3 linked regions of the Homo sapiens genome follow. The protein of the gene in region 3 purifies or fractionates together with the protein of the main gene of each other region. This does not show direct contact. Each region holds a gene or a part of one and is shown on either strand. Other genes may lie near its edges. The genes, in order: CWF19L1, MPLKIP and DBR1.

Region 1 (7,325 bases), on a different chromosome or scaffold from region 3:
TGGTATGCTCTTTACTGTTTAGAGTACACTCCTACGTATTCAAAAAAAAAAAAAAAAAGTTGACTGTAAAAAAGCCTCAGGCAGGTCCTTCAGGAAGTATTCCAGAGGGCACTGTTATCATAGGAGATGACAGCTTCATGCATGTTATTACTACTGAAGCCCTTCCAGTGGGACAAGATATGGAGGTGAACAGCAGTGATACTGATGATCCTGACCCTGTGTAGGCCTAGACTCGTGTGTGTGTCTTAGTTTGCAACAAAACAAGTTTAAAGCCAGGCACAGTGGCTCACGTCTGTAATCCCAGCACTTTGGGAGGCTGAGGCAGGAGGGTAACTTGAGCCCAGGAGTTCAAGACCAGCCTGGGTAACATAGCAAAACCCCCTCTCTACAAAAAATACAGAAATTAGCCAGGTGTGGTAGCTTCCGCCTGTAGTCCCAGCTACTCAGGAGGCTGAAGTGGGAGAATCACTTGAGCCCAGGAGGTTGAGGTTGCAGTGAGCCGTGATTGCACAATTGCACTCCAGCCTGGGCGACAGTGAGACCCTGTCTCCAAAAAAAAAAAAAGTTTAAAAGGTAAAAAGAAAAAAAAAGTAATAGAAAAAAGCTTGTAGAATAAGGATATAAAGAAAATATTTTTGTACAGCTGTACAATGTGTTTTATGTCTTAGCTGTGTTATAACAAGAGTCAAAAAGTGTAAAAAAACTTAAAGTTTATAAAGTAAAAGTTACAGTAAACTAAGGTTTACTGTTGAAAATAATATTTTAATAAATTTAATATAGGTGAAGTGTACAGTATTCATAAAGTCTACAATACTGTAAAGTAATACATTCACTCACCTCTTACTAACTCACTCAGAGAAACTTTCAGTTCTGCAAACTCCATTCATGATAAGTGTCCTACACAGGTTGTGCCCTTTTTTTTTTTCCTGTATACAGTATTTTCTTTTTTTCTTTTTCTTTTTTTTTTTTTTTGAGACAGTCTCGCTCTGTCGCCCAGGCTGGAGTGCAGTGGTGCGATCTCGGCTCACTGCAACCTCTGCCTCCCAGGCTCAAGCCATTCTCCTGCCTCAACCTCTTGAGTAGCTGGGATTACAGGCGCCCGCTACCACACCCGGCTAATTTTTGTATGTTTAGTAGACACAGGGTTTCACCATGTTGGCCAGGCTGGTCTTGAACTTCTGACCTCAGGTGATCCACCCACCTCGGCCTCCCAAAGTGTTGGGATTACAGGCATAAGCCACCACACCCGGCCAGGTGTTTTCACTGTACCCTTTCTATATTTAAATACAAAAATGCTTACCATTGTGTTACAATTGCCTACAGTATTCAGTACAGTAACTTGACGTACAGCTATACCATTTAGCCTAGGTGTACAGGAAGCCATACCATCTAGGTCTCTGGAAGTACACTCAAAGATGTTCGCACAATGACGAAATCGCCTACCAACTCATTTCTCAGAACATAACCCTGCTGTTAAGCAATGGATTACTCTTATTTCCCAAGGCTCAATCCTAACATTCTCGGGAAGCCTTCTTGACTCCTATCATTAAGCCAAATACCCCTCTTATGCACTCTCCCAGATTCACGAATATTTTCTTCCCAAAAGTTACCACTATTGCAATTTTTTTTTTTTTTTTTTTGAGACAGGGTTTCAATCTGTCACCCAGCCTGGAGATCAGCAGCACGATCACAGCTCACTGCAGCATCGACCTCCCCAGGCTCAGGTGGTCCACCTGCTTCAGCCTCCCAATTAGCTGGGACCACCACGCCCGGCTAATTTTTTTTTTTTTCTGTATTTTTTGTAGAAACGGGGCCTTGCTATATTGCCCAGGCTGGTCTTGAATTCCTGGACTCAAGTGATTCTCTTGCCTTGGCCTCCGGAGTCGCTGGGATTATAGGCGTGAGCCACTGCGCCTGGCCCTATCACTATGGTAACTTTACATTTATCTGAATTCCTTTTTTTTTAGACGGAGTCTCACTCTGTTACCTAGGCTGGAGTGCAGAGGTGCAGTGTCGGCTCACTGTGCAACCTCCGCCTCCGGGTTCAAGCGATTCTCCTGCCTCAGCCTCCCAAGTAGCTGGGATTACAGGCACGCGCCACCACGCCTGGCTAATTTTTTTTTTTTGTATTAGTAGAGACGGGGTGTCACCACGTTGGCCAGGCTGGTCTCGAACTCCTGACCGCAAGTGATCCGCCCGCCTCAGCCTCCCAAAGTGCTAGGATTACAGGCGTGAGCCACCGCGCCCGGCCATTATTTGTATTGTTTTTTGTTTGTTTTGTTTTGTTTTGTTTTGTTTTGAGAGTCTCGTTCTGTCGCCCAGGCTGGAGTGCAGTGGCGCGATCTCGGCTCACAGCAACCTCCGCCTCCCGGGTTCAAGCGATTCTCCTGCCTCAGCCACCGCGCCCGGCCCATTATCTGGATTCTTTAGTACCTGTTCCTCTAGACTCTACGCTCCATTAAAGCAGGAACTCCATCTGTTGCAACACCTAGCACAGCGTCCGGCACACTGCAGTTCTTCAATAAATACTTGCTGCATGAAGCCCTCTCTTCACCACCACCCCCACCCCTCCTCCTCGCAAAAAAAAAAAAAAAAAAAAAATGCCCCAGGGAAGGGTCCCTATCTACTCTGTCCACCACTGCCCAGGGCCCATCAGTGGGCCCAATGGCTATTTGGCGAGTAAATAAATGGGGTCAGGAGAAACGAAGGGGAAAGGATGTGTCAGAGGCCAGGACTGCCCCCTAAGATGGAGGAGGCCTAACTCTGGGAGCTTCCGCCTCTCCGAACGAGCGTCGCCAAGAGAAACCCCCTCAGAAGCGAAAAGGGCCAGGAAAAGAGGTCAGCCCCGGCCAGGCAAAGACATCACCTAAGCTCCCCAGCAGCCCCGTGTCTCTCCGCCTTTTCCTTCTCCCTTCCCGTCATGGGAAAGACTCCCGCCCGTGTCGTCACCTACACACACGAAAGAGACACAGGGAGAGAGGCTTCCATTCACGGTCACTCACAGGCGCAGCGGTTTCTGTGCCATCTGTCCGAATAGTATGGGTTGCGACTGCCACCTAAAATTGGGAATGCGAATCCGCGCTCCCCGGAAAAATGCGACCGCGCAACAATCAGACGTCAGCGCCCTCCAGCCAATAACGGTTCACTTACTTACGGAGACCGCCGAGGGACAGAAGCCTCTCTCAGGTGTTTGCGCCTCAAGGAAGAATCAAGAGGGAAAGGGAGGAACGAAGGGAGAAAGAGAAAGTGACCGAAAGGATTCCAACTATGATTTTTTAAATTAAATTTCAGAGCACTTGAAGCGAATGAATGGCTAGGAAGTACAGAGCACAATGTCGGGTTCTAACCTAACCTAACCTAACCTAACCTAACCTAACCATATCGGTCTAGTGGGCAAGACAGACCCCCTCTATCCACGTTTTTTGTAAGTTTTTAACCTATCAAAAAGTTAAGAGGCCGGGCGTGGACGCTCACGCCTATAATCCCAGCACTTTGGAAGGCTGAGGCGGGCGGATCACTTGAGGTCGGGCGTTCAAGACCAGCCTGGGCAACATGGTGAAACCCCGTCTCTTCTAAAAATACAAAAATTAGCCGGGCATGGTGGAGAATTGCTTCAACCAGGGAGGCGGGGGTTGCAGTGAGTCAAGATCGCGCCATTGCACTCCAGCCTGGACAACAAGAGCGAAACTCCGTCTCAAATTAAAAAAAAAAAAGTTAAAAGAATAATGGCTATTACCTTGATTCAGTAAGTCTCAGCATGTTGGCAAATTTGCTTGTGTTCTCTTTCTCTCAAAGTGCCCAAGCCCTTCCATTCTCACTCAATCATTTGAAAGTAAAGTACAGGCCGGGCGCAGTGGCTCACGCCTGTAATCCCAGCACTTTGGGAGATCCAGACCATCCTGGCTAACACGGTGAAACCCCCTCTCTACTAAAAATACAAAAAATTAGCCGGGCGTGGTGGCACGCACCTGCAGTCCCAGTTACTCGGGAGGCTGAGGCAGGGGAATCGCTTGAACCCAGGAGGAGGAAGTTGCAGTGAGCCGAGATCGCGCCACTTCACTCCAGCCTGGGCGACAGAGCGAGACTCCGTGTCAAAAAATAAAATAAAATAAAGTGCGGACAACAGGAATACATCTCCATTTATCTCCTAAGATTAGGATATCCTCCTACATAACCGTAATACTATTAACACAGCTAAGAAAATTAACATTAATTATTCAATAATATTACCTAATATACATCCATATTTAAAGTTCTCCATATTTCCCTACAAACTGATTTTATATTTGGGGCTTGTTTTGATTCAGATGCAATCAAGTTTCACACTTGCATTTGGTTCTGTCTCTATTTTAATCTACAAAAGCCCTCCTACCTATTTGGTTTTAGTTTTTGTAATATTGACTTTTTTGAAGGGTTCAGGCCAAGTGGTAGGAAACAAGTGTGTAAGGAAATGGAAACAAGAGAGAGTTCCTGACGACTGCGGGGAAAGGAAGACTCATCAAGGGCATCTAAATAATTCAAAATTAATAAAACATAAGATTAAAGAAGAACTACAGGCCAGGCACAGTGGCTCATGCCTGTAATCCCAGCACTTTGGGAGGCTGAGGCGGGAGGTTCACTTGAGAACAGGAGTTCAAGGCCAACCTGGGCAACATAGCCAGACCTCGTCTCTACTACAAATTTAAAAAGAAAAAAAAAAAAGTTAGCTGGGCATGGTGGCCGTATGCCTGTACTCCCAGGTACTCCAGAGGCTGAGGTGGGGAGATCACTTGAGCCCAGGAGATGGAGGCTTCAGCGAGCTATTACCTTGCCACTGCACTCCAGCCTGGGTGACACAGCAAGCCCTGTCTCAATAACCAAACAAAACTACAAAGTTCTGGCTTTTCCCACAGCCTACAAGCCTTCTTTTTTGTTTGTTTCTTGCCTCATAACTGGTGGCTCTGCTTTGCTGGCACATAAGCATGCATTTTTTCCTACTCTTTGGATAATACAGCACTGCCCAGGAGTAGCACTCAAGACTGAATCTTGAAGAAGAGTAGAAGTTTGCCAAACATGAGCAGGTAATAATTCCCAGAAGAGGATACAAAAGTAAGACATAAAAACTCATCGTATTGAAAAATCAAAAGACTCCACGAAAAAGACTGTTAGAAATAATAAACGAATTCAGTAAAAGTTTCAGGATACCAAATCAACATACAAAAATCAGTAGCATTTATATGCACCAACAGTAAACAATCTGAAAAAGAAATCAAAAAAGCAATCTCATTTACAACAGCTACAAAGAATATAAACTACGTAGGAATCAATTTAACTAAAGAAATGAAAGATCTATACAAGGAAAACTATACAATACTGATGAAAGAGGACACACACACAAAAAGGAAAGATATTCCACGCTTATGGATTAGAAGAATTAGGCGGGCAGATCACGAGGTCAGGAGATCGAGACCTTCCTGGCTAACACGGTGAAACCCCGTCTCTCCTAAAAATACAAAAAAATTAGCCAGGCGTGGTAGCGGGCGCCTGTAGTCCCAGGTACTCGGAAGGCTGAGGCAGCAGAATGGCATGAACCCGCGAGGCAGAGCTTGCAGTGAGCGGAGATCCAGCCACTGCACTCCAGCCTCTAGCCTGGGCAACAGAGCGAGACTCCGTCTCAAAAAAAAAAAAAAGAAAGAAAGAAAAAAGACAACACTACCTAAAGCAATTTACAGATTCAGTCCAATCCCCATCAAAATACAAATGGCATTCTCTAGATAGAGCAAGGATCCCCAACCCCCGGGCTATGGACCAGTACCCATCAGAAACCAGGACGCACAGCAGGAGGCGAGCGGTGGGCAAGTGAGAATAACCGCCTGAGCTCACTTCCTATCAGATTAGTGGTGGCATCAGATTCTTACAGAGGCTGGAACCCTATTGTGAACTGCACATGCGAGGGTTCTACGGCGCTGCGTACCTTACAAGAATCTGATGCCTGATGATCTGAGGTGGAACAGTTTCATCCCCAAACCATCCCCCCATCCCTACTTTCAGCTCTCTTTTTCTAATGTAAATGTCATGTACGAGCGTTTGTTTTTTTTGTTTTGTTTTGTTTTGTTTTTGTTTTTGTTTGAGACTGAGTCTCGCTCTGTCGCCCAGGCTGCAGTGCAGTGGCGCGATCTACGCTCACTGCAAGCTCCGCCTCCCGGGTTCACGCCATTCTCCTGCCTCAGCCTCCAGAGTAGCTGGGACTACAGGCACCCGCCACCATGCCTGGCTAATTTTGTTTTTGTATTTTTAGTAGAGACGAGTTTTCACCGTGTTAGCCAGGATGGTCTCGATTTCCTTGACCTCGTGATCCGCCCGCCTCGGCATCCCAAAGTGCTGGGATTACAGACGTGAGCCACCGCGCCCGGCCACAATAGTTTTATTTGACGTCAGGACTGTTTTGTAGACCGAGGTGTGATAGATGTGGCACGCACCAGCCACGGTTTCCACCGTCCCCAGAGCGTGGAGAGGCAGCGCCACTGCTCTCAAGGTTAATGACAACTCAATAAAGCACTGCTTTTATTTTTTGCAGTCTTCAATTTGAGAAAGGCCAGAAATAATGTTTTCAATAAATATGGTTCATACCATTAAAAAAAAAAATCCCCCCGCGTCCACGGAAAAATTGTCTTCCATAAAAGCGGTCCCTGGTGCCAAAAAGATTAGGGACTGCTGCTCTACAGAAATAGAAATAGAAAAAACAATCCTAAAATCTATATGGAACCACAAAAGACCCCAAAGAGCCAAAGCAATCCTGAGCAAAAAGCACAAAGCTGAAGGCATCATACTGCCCAACCTCAAAATCTACTACAAAGCTATGGTAACCCAATCAGTATGGTACTGACATAAAAATAGACACATAGACCAATGGAACATATATAAATCCATGCATTTACAGCCAACTCATTTTATGTCAATACCAAAAGTACAAAGGTGCCAAGAACATTCAATGAGGAAAGGACAGTCTCTTCAATAAATGATTCTTGGAGAACTGGATAGCCCTATACTGAAGAATGAAACTCAACTCTATCTCTCACCATATACAAAAATCGCATCAAAATGGATAAAGACTTAAACCTAACACATGAAACTATGAAGCTACCAGAAGAAAATACTGGAGAAATGTTCCAAGATATTGATCTGGGCAAAAATTTTTTGTATAAGACTTCAAAAGCACAGGCAACAAAAGCAAAAATAGACTAATAGGATTATATCAAACTAAAAAGCTCTGCACAGCAAAGGAAACAATCAACAAAGTGAAGAGGCAACCCACAGAATGGAAGAAAATATTTGCAAACTATCCA
Region 2 (7,424 bases), on a different chromosome or scaffold from region 3:
GCCAAGGTAGGGGATCACTTGAGACCAGGAGTTCAATCGAGACCAGCCTGGCCAACACGGTGAAACCCCATCTCTATTCAAAATACAAAAATGAGCCAGGCGCGTGCCTGTATTCCCAGCTACTCAGGAGGTCGAGGCGGGAGACTCGTATGAACCTGGGAGGCGGACGTTGCAGTGAGCCAAGATTGCGCCACTGCACTCCAGCGTGGGCAACAGAGTGAGACCCTATTTCAAAAACAAAACAAAACAAACAAAAAAAACAAAACATGGTCTCTACTAAAAATACAAAAATTAGCCAGGCATGGTGACATGTGCCTGTAGTCCCAGCTACTCAGGAGCCGAAGGTTGCAGTGAGCCAAGATTGCACCACTGCACTCCAGCTTGGGCAACAGACTCCATCTCAAAAAACAAACAAAAAACCACTTGATTTTTAAAAAATAGTTGGGGTAACAATTCTTCCATATTTTTCTCTCCAGAACTATAGGTATATATCCATAGCATCCCTTAATTTGGAAAACCACTTCTCTACTCCAGGTAGGCCCAGTGGTGTTCAAGGTCACAGAATCCTGTCTCATTATGGTGATGTGTCCATGATTCAAGTTAATTAGGTCTCACTGTGGCCTTGGCCACAGTTAATTGGTTCAATAATACAGAAACATGATCTAAGTATGGCAAATTTGTCTTCTCTTGGATTGATGGAGATGAGAGATGTTCTTTTTGCAATGGAAGTGATTTGAGGCTGCTGGTAGCTATCTTCTTTGGCCTCAAGAGAAACTAACTCCATAATGCTAAGAGGTATAGAGAAATTCAGATAGAACACTTTGATTTAGCAATGCATGGTCTATTCTTGCCTTTTCCAGTTAAATGAGTATAAAGTTATGCTTAAATGGGTTTCTGGGGCTTCAAGTTTTAATGCATTTTAACAGAAGCATTAGATAAAATGAGTATGAACAGAACTCTGTTATTCTCATCCTCATTATTTACGAACAAATACAGAGCTGTCTACAGCTCAAAGGATGGTTTACCTATTTCATTTTCAAAAATAATTTGCAAAACATTTACCTATGAACTCTAAGTGACTACAAAGCATTACTGTAGTAAGTCTACTTCTTTATCATACCACAAAACCACAATAGCTAGAAGACAAAATGTTTTATTTTAAAACATTGAAAAAACATTAAAAGACAAATGTCCATTATGTAACCAGGAATGTTAAATATATGGAAACGGTAAATCTCTAAAATGTGGTAGGTACTTCCAGAGCTAAATGTTGCAAGTTATCCTACTTTTTTCTCTAATATCAACAATACCTGATACGATGAAAAATAACAAAAAGACCTTACTAATTATCCAATCAAAGTCATCATCTTTGGGTAAATTTATATCAACACAACTTAAAGTTTTGTCCAAGATGTTCCTGACACATGAAGCTTCCAGTTGAATTTCAGAAATGTTAACAAAAGTATCTTCCTTTTTTGCCTGTGAATGTTTGAGTATTGCTGTATTGTTGGCTTATATCCACTACAGATACTGGTTCTAGGCCAGCCCAAGGATCTTCAAGCATTGAAGGCTTGAAATAATTTTCCAACTCATTAGACATTCTTTTTTCTCTAACACGCCCTGATCCAAATGGTGTAGATGTCCTTGGAGAACCCTTTAGAAAAAAAATCAGTTAAAAAAACACTTAGTAAAGATAATTGGTACTTCTTCCTTTAGCTAAAGGTTAGCGGGAATCACATTGCTGCTTAAAAGTTGTGACTTGAACCTAAATAATGTTCAATTACAAAGTCCATGCTTCCTTTAATCAAGTGTTCCTATTTTTTAAAAAAAGTACTTAAAGCAATTCGTTATTCTCATTTATTTATAATTCCATGACCACTGTCATCTCAAATACTTTTGTGTCTAATGTAGTAACTTTGCAGTAATTAAATACAAGCAGTGATGAAATCAAGTAATTATATTCAATTTTCCCTCGAAATTTTCACTTTTTTCAGGAGAAAACAATACTATAGTTTTAAAGTTTCTAGAACCTTTCTAGCTCATGAACATTTTCTTTACTCCTTAGCTCCAGGCTCAAAAGGGGTAGGGGGTTGGTGTAGAATACAGCAAGTTGGAAAACCACGTAGTTGCAAGTTGTAAACCACAGAAATCCCAGACATGCTAGAGATACTCTCTCTGTCTTTTGTATTTACTCTCACTAAAGGAATGGAAAACTTCCACTACCACCGATTTTCTTTTCAGGGAAGTTGGAGCAGAAGCCAGTGTAGCTCGAAAGAAAGATAAAAAAAAAAAAAAAAAAAAGAAAAAGAACTATTTCTTGAAACAAACTGGCAAGGCCTTTGGCAAACAGGAGGAAATGGAGAATTAGGAAAATCTGTGTACGGGTGGCAGTGTATTGGTTAAAAGCACGAGGGCTCGAAAACAGAACGTACGGCTCTGCCACTCTTTCGGATAATCTTCCGGAAGTCACTCAACTTCTCTAAGCCTCAGTTCGCTCATCTGCAAAATTGGGCTAACAATAGTACCTCAGAGAGGATTAGACAAAATAATCCACGTAAAGGGAATATTAGTACCGTGCCTGCCATAAAGTAAGAGCTCGGCAAACGCTGGCTATTATTATTACCTGGGGGTGGGTCTGCTGCTGCCCTGGGGAGTAGCCGAATTGCTGCTGGGACCCCGCGGGGGACCTGGAGTAGGAGCCAGGGTAGCCGCCAGGGGACGGAGACCCGAACCGGCCCCCCGGGAAGCTGCCGCCGTGTCGCGGAGAGTGACTGCTCCCGTACGGCCTAGACCGGGGCCCGTACGGCGGCGTGTGGTGCGGACTCCCGTACCCGTCTCGAGGGGAGGGCGGCCGTGGTCCGCCCCCGCCCGGGGTTCCCCGGAAGCTGCTTCCGCTACCCCAACCTCCTCCACCCGGACCAGGGTAAGGAGGAGTTGGGGGCCGAAAATTCTGTCGCTGCATATCAGGAGCCAAAGCCGAAAACCTCGCAGCCGCGTTCTCCCACCGGAACTGTATCAACCGGCCCTCCGCAGAGAACTGCTAGTCCTTTACCAAAACAGTCCTCCGACCGCAGCCACCCTACGGCACATCAGTTCCGGCGTCACAAAGGTTCCGCCAGGGGCGGCGGGATTACCTAAATCACTGACTTGGCGAGAGACTCAGTGGATTTAAGTGAAAAGAGGAAGAAAAGGAGACAGGAAAGGACGGACACCCAAGCCCAGCAACAACCTTTCCAGTCTGAGTGCCCTTGGTCTGACCGACAGACTAGAAGCTGGCCCAGCAGGCGACTAGTGCTCAGCCCCGCCCGGCGGGGGCGGGGTCTGCGGCGTCCGTGGGCGCCCCCCAGTGGCGGCGGGTGGCGCCGCACGGAGTTCGCCGCTTGCACCGGGACCGATGCCATCTGAGACGCACGCGATGCTGGCGACGCTGGCGAGGGTGGCAGCTCTGCGCAGAACCTGCCTCTTCTCCGGCCGGGGCGGCGGGAGGGGGCTGTGGACTGGCCGCCCGCAGTCAGGTACCCTCCGAGATTCGGTCTGGGTGGCTAAAGGGATCCCTGCCCCAGCTTGCCTCCTCGGGCGCCCTGAGGAGAGCAATTAGGGTCTGAAGTCTCTGCTGACCCCTTAGCGGTGGCTTTGCTCGCCTCCCTGCAACCCCGTTCCGTGGGCCTGCGGCCGGCCTGCCCCGCTCTGGCCGCCCAGGGTCGCCTCTGTCCCGTGCGTTGTTGTGACCGAGGGCTCCGTGCGCCGTGGGGTCCCGCTCCTGCGCGTCCCGCGGCTCGCGTTTGGGGCCTCTTTACTCCTGTCCTTTCGTCCGCCAAGTTTAAGTAACTTCGAAAATGCACACCAAGCCACATTTCAGAAAGGACTTTAGCCCGCTGCTTTGAATAACTTGACACTTCATGTACAATAAAAGATGCCCTTGTACAGTTACCTGTTGCAGAATTTTATTTAGAGGATGAAATTTAGCTTTACTACAGTGTTATAGAACTTTCTTTACTCCCTCTGAATTTGGGAATGGTAATCCACTATGAATCTTTTTTTTCCTTTTTTCTTTTTTTCTCTTTTTTTTGAGACGGAGTCTCGCTGTCTCGCCCAGGCTGGACTGCAGTGGCGCGATCTCGGCTCACTGCAACCTCCTCCTCCCGTGTTCAGGAGATTTTCCTGCTTCAGCCTTCCGAGTAGCTGGGATTATAGGCATGCGCCACCACGCCCAACTAATTTTTGTATTTTTAGTAGAGACGGGGTTTCGCCATATTGGCCAGGCTGGTCTCGAATTCCTGACCTCAAGTTATCCTCCCGCCTCGGCCTCCCAAAGTGTTGAGATTACAGACGTAATCTCTATGATTATGCGCGCGGCCCACTATGAATCTTGAAATTAGTTGCAGGATGCAGGATTTTTTTTTTTTTTTTTGAGACAGTCTCGCTCTGTCGCCCAGGCTGGAGTGCAGTGGCGCGATCTTGGTTCACCACAACCTCTGCCTCGCGGGTTCAAGCGATTCTCTTGCCTCAGCTTTCTAGAGTAGCCGAGATTACAGGCATGTGCCACATGCCCGGCTAATTTTTTTGTATTTTTAGTAAAGACGGGTTTCACCATGTTGGCCAGGCTGGTCTCAAATTCCTGGGCTCAAGTGATCCGCCTGCCTCTGCCTCCCGAAGTGCTGGGATTTCATGCGTGAGCCACCGCGCCTGGCGTAGGATACAGAATCTTAAAAGAGCTTTAGGACTCATTAAATCATAGCCTAACGGGTAGCCTGGACCTGTGATTTCCATTCACCCTCTTGTAGCTGCTACTCCTCGCTGTCTCTTTGACATGTTCTGTGACATCCCAAGCTGACGAGTGTGGTATCTTCTCAGCTTCTATCCTCCTTGATGAATGGAGACACACACAGACAGTTTTTTTGTTTGTTTATTCTGTGGAAATTCAATTCACTACATTTCGTTTCTTCTGTAGATACAAGTGATAGACTTAATCAAGGTAGCACGTTGCCATTAAGGCTTAGTGATACAATTAAGGTCGGAGGACTCCAGCCTATCCACTTTATTAAATACAGTAGTTCTGTCCTGGCCAAAAATTCACCTTTCTGGACATTGTCTTTAGTGTTTAACTTAATGCTTGGGAATTGCTCATTTGAATATTTATTGAATAAAATGACCTAGGTGGGACGATTGCTTGAGCCCAGGAGTTGAAGACCAGCCTGGGCAACATCGTGAAGCCCCATTTCTACCAAAAATACAAAAAAAATTAGCCGGGCTTGGTGGCGTGCGCCTGTAGTCCCAGTTGCTTGGGAGGCTGAGGTGGGATGGCTTGAGTCCTAGGAGGTTGAAGCTGCAGTGATCCGCTATTGTGCCACTGCACTCCAGCCTGGGTAACAGAGCGAGACCCTATCATGCCCCCCCACCCCACTGGAAAAAAAAAAGGTTCACATACATCACATAGGTAATTTTCACCTTTTAGATCATCAGCCAGTCTACTCAGGGGAGGGGGCAGAAAAGTGAGAGTGGTGGGGACCAAAATTAACTTTATTATTATTATTATGGACATGGGGTGGTCTCACTCTGTCACCGAGGCTGGAGTGCGGTGGTGAGATCACAGATCACTGCATCCTCGACCTCCTGGGCTCAAGTGATCTTCCCACGTCAGTCTCCCAAGTAGCTGGGAGTACAGGCTCATGCTACCATGCCTGGCTAATTTTTTTATTTCTTTATTTTTTGTAGAGACAGGGTCTTGCTGTGTTTCCCAGAACTCCCCACCTCAAGCATTCCTCTCTCCTGCCTTGGCCTCCCAAAACTCTGCAATTAAATGGTGTGGTGAGCCACCATGCCCAACCAACAAATTAATTTAATAGTAAACAGTTTAACTGATGGACGCCTAATGAGTATATAGATCTTTATTCCATCAACCCATTTATCTGTATAACTTCAATCTAACTAAAGTTCACTAAAATTTATTAAAATTCAAAAGCCATGCTCTTTTTAAGCTTCTAGTAGTACATTTTGTAGCAAGATAAAAGTGACCAATAAAAAAGTTTGAGTTGTGTTTTTCTGTCGTATAGCAGTATACTCTCTCTATATATTTTTTATTTATTTAAGTATTGAGACATGTCTTGCTCTTTCATCCAGGCTGGAGTGCAGTGGCGCAATCCCAGTTCACTGCAACCTCTGCCTCTCTGGGCTCAAGCAATCCTTCCACCTCAGCCTCCCAAGTAGCTGAAACCAGAAGTGTGTGCCACCATGCCTGGCTAATTTTTGTATTTTTTGAAGACATGGGGTTTTGCCATGTTGCCCACACTGGTCTTGAACTCCTCAGCTCACAGAATCCAGCCACCTGGGCCTCTCAAAGTGCTGGGATTACAGGCATGAGCCCCCTGTGCCCCAGCCAGTTATGATTTTGTTTTGGCATATATTCATGGGGGTACAAGTGCAGTTTTGCTACATTGATATATTGTATTGGGGTGAAGTCAGGGCCTTCAGTGCATCCATCACTGGCACAAGACACATTGTACCCAGCAAGCAACCTCCTGTAGTCCATCCCCTTCCCTCTACATCCCCAACCCTCCAAGTCTCCATTGCCCATCACTCCACACTCTGCTTCCATATGTACGCATTATTTACCACCAACTTATAAGGGAGAACAGGCAATATTTGTTTTTCTGTGCCTGAGTGATTTCACTTAAGATAATGGCCCCCAGTTCTATCCATGTTGCTGCAAAAGACATAATTTCATTCTTTTTTATGGCTGAATAGTATTCCATTTTGTATATATGCCATATTTTGTTTATTTAGTGCTCCATTGATGGGCACTTAGGTTGATTTCATATCTTTGCTTTTATGAATAGTGCCGTGATAAACATATGAGTGCAGGTGTCTTTTTGATGTAATGATTTCTTTTCCTTTGGGTAGATGCACAGTAGTGGGATTGCTGCATCTTCCGGTAGTTCTATTTTTAGTTCTGTGAGAAATCTCCATACTGTTTTCCATAGAAGGTGCACTGATTTACATTCCCACCAACAGTGTATAAGAAGAGTTCCCTTTTCTCAGCTTCCTCACCAACATCCTGTGATTTTTTTTGTCTTTTTAATAGCCATTCTGTTGTGTGTAAGATGATATCTCATTGTGGTTTTTAATTTGTATTTCTCTGATGATTGGTGATGTTGAACATTTTTTAAAAATTTTACTCATGGCAGTACACAGAAATTTTCAGGGAAGATTAAAAGGCATGAAAACATGACTCTTAATAGACAATTCTAGCAATATACAAACTATTTTTGTTTCCCTAGAGTCTTGAATTTTTTGTTCAACTCATTTTCTGGTTATGAATTTAAAATGATTACAGCATACTGCCAATGTTTGAGAAGAAATCTGTTATTGGATTAAGTTTAGGAATCAGGCTGGGCGTGGTGGCTTATGCCTGTAATCCTACCACT
Region 3 (7,552 bases):
GGGATATATTATAACAGTATATAAAGGTAAGGTCTGGAATTAGATGAGCCAAAACACTAAGTAGATTCTGGAAGGGACAAATGAGATAGGGTACTGAAAGTGAAACAGACATAATTTGGTACCTAACTGAATACACGGGTGAGGTAGTGGGAGGTGGAAAATGTCCTATGATGGATTTACATGTATAAACCTGAAAATCAACAGGTATAAGGTATAAAGAACCTACAGCTTCTAGTTTCATTTCTGATTGATCATCTTCTGACAATTTCACTTCTTCACAATATTGTAATATAGGATGAATACATCAAAAGATGATCAGTAAGTAGCAAAGTAGGGAAACTAAATTTCTGAAATATGATCTCATCATTGGTAAAATCTATAAACTGTTCTAGAAAGAATATACATTTAAATAAAGGGATGAAGCTGGGTGCGGTGGCTCATCCCTGTAATCCCACCACTTTGGAGGCCCAGGTGGGCGGATCACTTTGAGCTCATGAGTTCGAGACCAGCCTGGACAACATGGCCAAACTCAGTCTCCACAAAAAAATACAAAAAAACAAAAAAATTAGCCGGGCGTGGTGGTACACGCTTGCAGTCACAGCTACTTGGGAGGCTGTGGTGGGAGGATGGCTTGAGCCTGGAAGGCGAAGGTTGCAATGAGCTGAGATCAGGCCACTGCACTCCAGCCTGGGCAACAGAACCAGACCTTGTCTCGAAAAATAAAGGGATGAAAAGGCTATATAGTTTATAGGGGCCAATATTGAGACAATCTAATCAAATCTGAAAATCTAAAAGCAGATTATAGGAAATGCAAAGGATAAAAGGAATCCAATCAGCTAAATCCTGAATGCAGGAAATGCTGCAAGACAAATTTCCTGTTTTCTTCAGCAAGTAAATGGCATGAAAAAGCGAGACAGGGAGACTATTTTAGTCTAATAGACTTCAGAGTCATGACAACCAAATGAAATGGGCTGGCCTTGTCTGGGTCCTATTTAAACCAATTGTAAAGCAGACATCTTTACATTAAGCAGGGAAATCTGACCACGAACATGGCAATAGATAATGATTACTTCAGTTAAGTATAATAACAGTACTGTAGTAGTATTTTTAAAGATCCTTATCACTTAAAAACATGTACTGAAATATGTATAAGTGAAATAATCTAACGGTTGGACTTGCTTTAAATACTCTAGTCATCTCTTCCCACAAAAAAAAAAAAAAAAATCCAGGAGATTGCAATATAATAGTCGTTGAAGCTGGTTAACAGGTACTGAGATTCATCATACTATTCTCTACTTTTGTGTATGCTTAAGAATTTCTATTAATAAAAGTTTAAGGTCTTTAATTCAATAAAAATTGTAAGAAAAAATGAAGGGACTACAAATAGTGTGTGAGGTCTTTGCAATTATATTAGCTAGTGCTTAAAACACTAGATGAAGGGCATATTTTCATGATCAACCATTTAATAATTAACTATCTTAATTAAATTTTCACGATTAAGTATTTAAATTAATGACATTCTCCAAACACCATACATGTCAAGACACAGTCCAACTAACGCAAATCCTGATAAGCTCTTCCATCCCAGGAAAAAAAAGTATCCACAAACACAATCACATACCTAAATAATAAATGTTTGGTGCCACCCAGCCACCATAGGGTAACTCTTGCAAATGATTTGAGGCTTCATGGTTTCCCCCAATGAAGAGCGTGAGAACTGGAGCCTTTTTCTCTCCAGAGTAATACCTAGAACATAAGAGCAAAGTCAGTTACCACAATTAGGCATAGCAGAAAAGCAAATAAGTTCCGAAAAAAAAAAAGAAACTGAGTTCATCATAAAAAGTTAAAAAGCTCTTTCAAAAGGAATTGCCTGGGGCTGGGCGCGGTGGCTCCCTCCTGTAATCCCAGCACTTTTGATGGCCGACACAGGCGGATCCCCTGAGGTCAGGAGTTCGAGACCAACCTGGCCAATGTGGTGAAACCCCGTCTCTACTAAAAATGCAAAAATTAGCTGGGTGTAATCCCAGCTACTCGGGAGGCTGAGGTGGGAGAATCGCTTGAACCCAGGAGACGGAGGTTGCAGTGGGTCAATATCGCGGTACTGCACTCCAGCCTGGGCAACAAAGCGAAACTCTGTCTCAAGAAAAAAAAAAAAAAAAAAAAAAGGAATTGCCCAGTATCCATCCTTGCCCTTAGGAATGAAGAGCTTCCACCTTGAGCCTCAAGTCAGTGCCCGTTCAATTAAGTCAAGAACTGTTTCGAGTTCATTGCCATAACCTCATCTTCTAGAACCACAACAAGCACATAGCAGGGGCCCAGTAAAAACTTCAGGATCATTGAATGAACTAATTCCAGAGTCCTATCAAGTACAAGGTAGCTATCTAAACCTGTCAGCTTCTTCCTCCAGGTTATCCCCTCCCAGGCTTCGACACCCTTTGAAATGGATAAGATGTGTATGGAAAGAAGGAAAGTGACATTTCCTAAGCACCTAATGAGATAGGGTGCTAGTGAAACTGACATAATTTGGTACCTAACTGAATACAGTACCGAACTGAATACATTTCCCGCCTCCCACTACCTCACCCCTGTATTCAGTTAGGCACCAATTAGAGATACAGAGAGAACAAAGACAGGATCTAAGGGAAACAGGCAGCCAGTGGCAGAGGGAACCCAGTCCCACCCCCCCACCGCCAAGTCCGGGCCCGGCCGCGTCCTCACCTGTAGAAGGTTTGCATGTGACGATACTTGGGCGGCACGGCCATGCAGCGTAGATCCGCCTCGTTGCGCACCGCCTGGAAGTCGCCGCAGCACAGCAAGAGGTCGACAGGCCCCGGGCCGCGCCGCTCTGCCAGCGCCAGCGTCTCATAGATCTTATCCAGCTCGCCGTGGCAGCAGCCAGCCACAGCCACCCGCATTCTGCCGGCCTGAGGAGGTGAGCGCTGCCTGCAACGCCCTACACCACAGCCAGCCCAGGACCGACTGATCGCTCAGCTCCCGCCAACTTTAATAAGTATAGCCACCGCCTGGGTGTAGACTCCTGCAAAATAATTCACTTCCGGTTTCCAGATCTCGCGAGAGAGGGACCGGGAAGGTCAAACCTAATTCTGGGATCCCAGGGAACTTATTTTCTTTTTTTCCTTTTTTCTTTTTTTTTAATTATTGTTTTATGCAGTCAATATTTTTTTGTATATACATCCACAAATGTACTCTTTCCATCCTTACTCTTTTCTTCCTGGATTTCCATTTTTCTCTTTGGAATCATTTTTCTTCTGTCTGAAGAGCTCAGTTTAAGTTTTCCTGTTTGTTTAGTGTAGGCCGACGACAGATTAATTTTTTTCTAGATATTTGTTTGTTTAAAAATTTCTTTCCACTCTGGGGAAAATGGTGAAACCCTGTCTCTACTAAAAATACAAAAATTAGCTGGGCGCAGTAGCGCACGTCTGTAATCACAGCTACTTCAGAGGCTGAGGCAGGAGAATCCCTCAAACCCAGGAGACGGAGGTTGCAGTGACCTGAGATCGCGCCCCTGCACTCCAGCTTGGGCGACAGAGCGAGACTCCGTCTAAAAAAAAAAAAAAGAGACAAAAGAGAAAGAGAGAGAGAAGAAAAGAAAAGAAGCCAGTGTGCTGGCTCACACCTGTAATCCCAGCACTTTGGGAGGCAGAGGCGGGCGGCTCACGAGGTCAGGAGTTTGAGACCAGCATGGCCAACATGGTGAAACCCTGTCTCTACTAAAGATACAAAAAATTAGCTGGGCGTGGTGGCGCACACCTGTAATCCCAGCTACTTGGGAGGCTGGGGCAGGAGAATCGCTTGAACCCAGGAGGCAGAGGTTGCAGTGATCTGAGATCGTGCCATTGCACTCCAGCCTGGGTGACAGGGTGAGACTCCGTCTAAAAAAAAAAAAAAGAAAAAGAAAGAAAGAGATGTCTTTGTTTCACCTTAATTCATAAAGGGTGTGTTTACTGAGTACCGAATACCAGTTAAGCAGTGTGTGTGTGTGTGTGTGTGTGTGTGTGTGTGTGTGGTTTTTTTTTTACAAAGCATTTCAAAAATAGCATTCTATTATCTTCTGGCTTGCATTATCTTCTACTGAGAAGTCACCTATAAACTTAAGGTTTTTTTTCACTGAAAGTAATGTGGGTTTTTTGTTTGTTTGTTTGTTTTTTGTTTTTTTGAGACGGTCTCTCACTCTGTTGCCCAGGCTGGAGGCAGTGGCACGATCTCGGCTCACTGCAACCTCCGCCTCCCCAGTTCAAGCGATTCTCCTGCCTCAGCCTCCCAAGTAGCTGGGATTACAGGTGCACACCACCATGCCCAGCTAATTTTTTGCATTTTTAGTAGAGACAGGGTTTCACCATGGTGGCCAAGCTGGTTTCGAACTCCTGACCTCAAGTGATACGCCCACCTCGGCTTCCCGAAGTGCTAGGATTACAGGCGTTAGCCACCGCGCCCAGCCAGTAATGTGTCTTTTTCTTTGCTATTTACTGTTTTCTCTTTCTCTACTTTCTCTCCCTACTCCTTAAAGCTATTTTAATAAAATATATCTAGGTGGTTTTTTTTTTGAACTTTACTCATTTATGCTTTCTGAATCTATAGCTTGGTATCTTTTTTCAGTTTTGGAATATTCTTGGTCAGTATCTACTTAAATGTTGCTTTTTTTTCTGTCTTTTCCTACTCCTTTGGAATTTTTCCATGGTATTTTACCTATCTTTTATTTCTATTCCATAGTTCTCATTTTTATCAGTGTTTTATTTTGGATAGTTTCTAATAACCTCTCTTCTAGTTTACTAATCCTATTTTGTTCTATGTCCAATGTACAAACTCATTTATTAATGTTTTAACATTATAGTCCTTTTCAATTTTAGGATTTATATTGGATTCTTTTCCAGTGAAGCCAATAGTTTAAAGAGATTCTTTATCTTTTAATTTATTTCCTTCATCTTTTCCTCTCTTTCTCTCATATATTAATCATTGTTATTTTAGGTTGCCTGTCTTCTAAGCCCAATATCTTACTTATCTGCAGAGCTGATTCTATTGTCTGTTTCTGTTTCATTGGATTCTTAGTTTAAAAATCTCGTTTTTTGGCCGCGGTGACTCCCACCTGTTGTCCCAGCACTTTGGGAGGCCAAGGTGGATGGATCTCTTGAAGCCAGGAGTTCGAGAGCAGCCTGGCCAACATGGTGAAACCCTGTCTCTACTAAAAATAAAGAACTTAGCTGGGGGTGGTGGCGCATGCCTGTAATCCCAGCTACTTGGGAGGCTGAGGCGGGAGAATCGTTTGAACTCGGGAGGCGGAGGTTGCAGTGAGCCGAGATTGCGCTGCTGCACTCCAGCCTGGGCTACAGAGTGAGACCCTGTCTCAAAAAGAATAAATAAATAAATAAATATCTCGTTTGTGTGTGTGTGTGTATATATATATATATATATATATTCCAGGATACATGTGCAGGTTATGCAGATTTGTTACACAGGTAAACGTGTGCCATGATGATTTACTGCGCCTATCAACCTATCACCTAGGTATTAAACCCAGCATACATTAGCTATTTTTCCTGATGCTCTCCGTACCTTGCAGATCACTTGAGGCCAGGAGTTCGAGACCAGCCTGGCCAACATGTATCTCTCCAAAAATACAAAAATTAGCAGGGCGTTGTGGCACATGCCTGTAGTACCAGCTACTGGGGAGGCTGAGGCAGGAGAATTGCTTGAACCTGGAAGACAGAGGCTGCAGTGAGCGGAGATTGCACCACTGCACTCCAGCCTGGGGGACAGAGCAAGACCCTGTCTCAAAAAAAAAAAAAAAAAAGAGAGAAGAAAAGAGGATTCTTGGGCTTGGTCTGTCTTCACCTATCTTTACAGGTCCTTGAGTCCTAGCAGTCTCACGGATGATAAAATTCTAAATTAGGATAGTAAATAGAATCCCCAATAGTAGGAATTTAGTTTGATAAAATTAAACTAAGATAAACGAGCAAGCAGGCGCAAATGGCGAATTCCTTAGGACGAACTTCTCAAGGCAAAGACAATTGCCTGAAAGTGAATCAGAATTTAAAAAAATTTTGACACCCCAAAATAATTATTTTTAAATAAAACTTTAAAACCCACCAAGGATTTAAAAACTATCTCCCTCCGCCGGGTGCGGTGGCTCACGCCTGTAATCCCAGCACTTTGGGAGGCCAAGGTGGGCGGATCATGAGGTCAAGAGTTTAAGACCAGCCTGGCCAATAGGGTGAAACCCCGTCTCTACTAAAAATACAAAAATTAGCCGGGCGTGGTGGCGCACGCCTACTACTACTCCTCCTCCCAGCTATTGGGGAGGCTGAGGCAGGAGAATTGCTTGAACCCAGGAGGGAGAGGTTGCAGTGAGCCGAGATCACGCCACTGCACTCCAGCCTGGGAAAGACAGAGCGAGACTCCGTCTCAAAACAAACAAACAAAAACAAAACAAAACAAACAAACAAACAAAAAAACGACCTCCCTCTAAGAGTTTCTAAAATTATCAGTTTTTTTTTTCTTTAAGTGGCCAAGGACTTTTTATTTTCCTGACAAATAGTTTTCCTAACTAGAATGCAAGCTAAATGAAAGTAGGTGAATATTTCTAAAACTTTCAGAAAGGAAGATGACCAAACTGGTAAATAAAGAATGAGTGGGCTAGGCGGAGTGGCTCACACCTGTAAGCTCAGCACTTTGGGAGGCCGAGGCAGGCGGATCACTTGAGGTCAGGAGTTCCAGACCAGCCTGGCCAACATGGTGAAACCCTGTCTCTACTAAAAATACAAAAAATTAGCTGCGCGTGGTGGTGAGTGCCTGTAATCCCAGCTACTCGGGAGGCTGAGGCAGAAGAATCGCTTGAACTTGGGAGGCAGAGGTTGCAGACACTATACTCCAGCCTGGGCAACAGAGCTAGACTCTGTCTCAAAAAAAAAGAAAAAAAGAAAGAAAGAAAGAAAGAAAAAGTGACCAAGACAAAAACAAGCAAAGAAAACACCTCTGGAAAACTTAATCAAGAAAAGATAATCTAATCAAGGCAGTACACAGAACAATAAATCCATCTCTTCCCATTTAAAAAAACTAATTAAAATGAATATTATAGGAAAAAACACCAAAATTAATTAAAAATGAAGCAGTACATGTAAACAGAACAATGATAATAGGAGACACTGTAAAGATTATCAAAGATACGAAGACATTGTGTCCAGAGTGATGTTGGAGCAATTTATTTCAAATTTACAAGGAAGATATGATTTTCATGATATTTAAATTGATCAGGAAGGTAGAAAAATATGGAAATCTAATATTTCTGATTAGTTTTAAATATTTTATTTTCCTTCTGTATAGATTTTGTTGAAATATAATAGAACAATGGATGCTTTTTACATTGTTAAATTTAACTTTTGCATTTTATTTTTAATCTATGGGAATTGTTTTCCTCTAGATCTTTTTTCTCCATGTAAAAAATTTTAATTAAGGTATAGCTTACTTAAAGTAACATAAATAACATTTTAAGTGCACAGTGTGATGATGCACATATGACAACCACCCATATCAAGAT

The links.
Region 1: the proteins of DBR1 (region 3) and CWF19L1 purify together in Homo sapiens (affinity purification with mass spectrometry; 3 studies listed by BioGRID and IntAct, with this or other methods). This does not show direct contact.
Region 2: the proteins of DBR1 (region 3) and MPLKIP purify together in Homo sapiens (affinity purification with mass spectrometry; 3 studies listed by BioGRID and IntAct, with this or other methods). This does not show direct contact.

What each region holds. Positions count from the first base shown.
Region 1 is NC_000010.11:100,264,569-100,271,893, forward strand, and holds the start of CWF19L1 (CWF19-like protein 1), read right to left. Parts: upstream 3,071-7,325; 5' UTR 3,026-3,070; coding exon 3,003-3,025; exon of another isoform or gene 2,958-3,002; intron 1-2,957.
Region 2 is NC_000007.14:40,131,606-40,139,029, forward strand, and holds the start of MPLKIP (M-phase-specific PLK1-interacting protein), read right to left. Parts: upstream 3,018-7,424; 5' UTR 2,963-3,017; coding exon 2,624-2,962; intron 1,655-2,623; coding exon 1,454-1,654; 3' UTR 1-1,453. Other genes in the region: SUGCT (succinyl-CoA:glutarate CoA-transferase), read left to right, coding at 3,416-3,515. UniProt on the Homo sapiens protein: May play a role in maintenance of cell cycle integrity by regulating mitosis or cytokinesis.
Region 3 is NC_000003.12:138,171,881-138,179,432, forward strand, and holds the start of DBR1 (lariat debranching enzyme), read right to left. Parts: upstream 3,042-7,552; 5' UTR 2,916-3,041; coding exon 2,719-2,915; intron 1,747-2,718; coding exon 1,622-1,746; intron 1-1,621. UniProt on the Homo sapiens protein: Cleaves the 2'-5' phosphodiester linkage at the branch point of excised lariat intron RNA and converts them into linear molecules that can be subsequently degraded, thereby facilitating ribonucleotide turnover.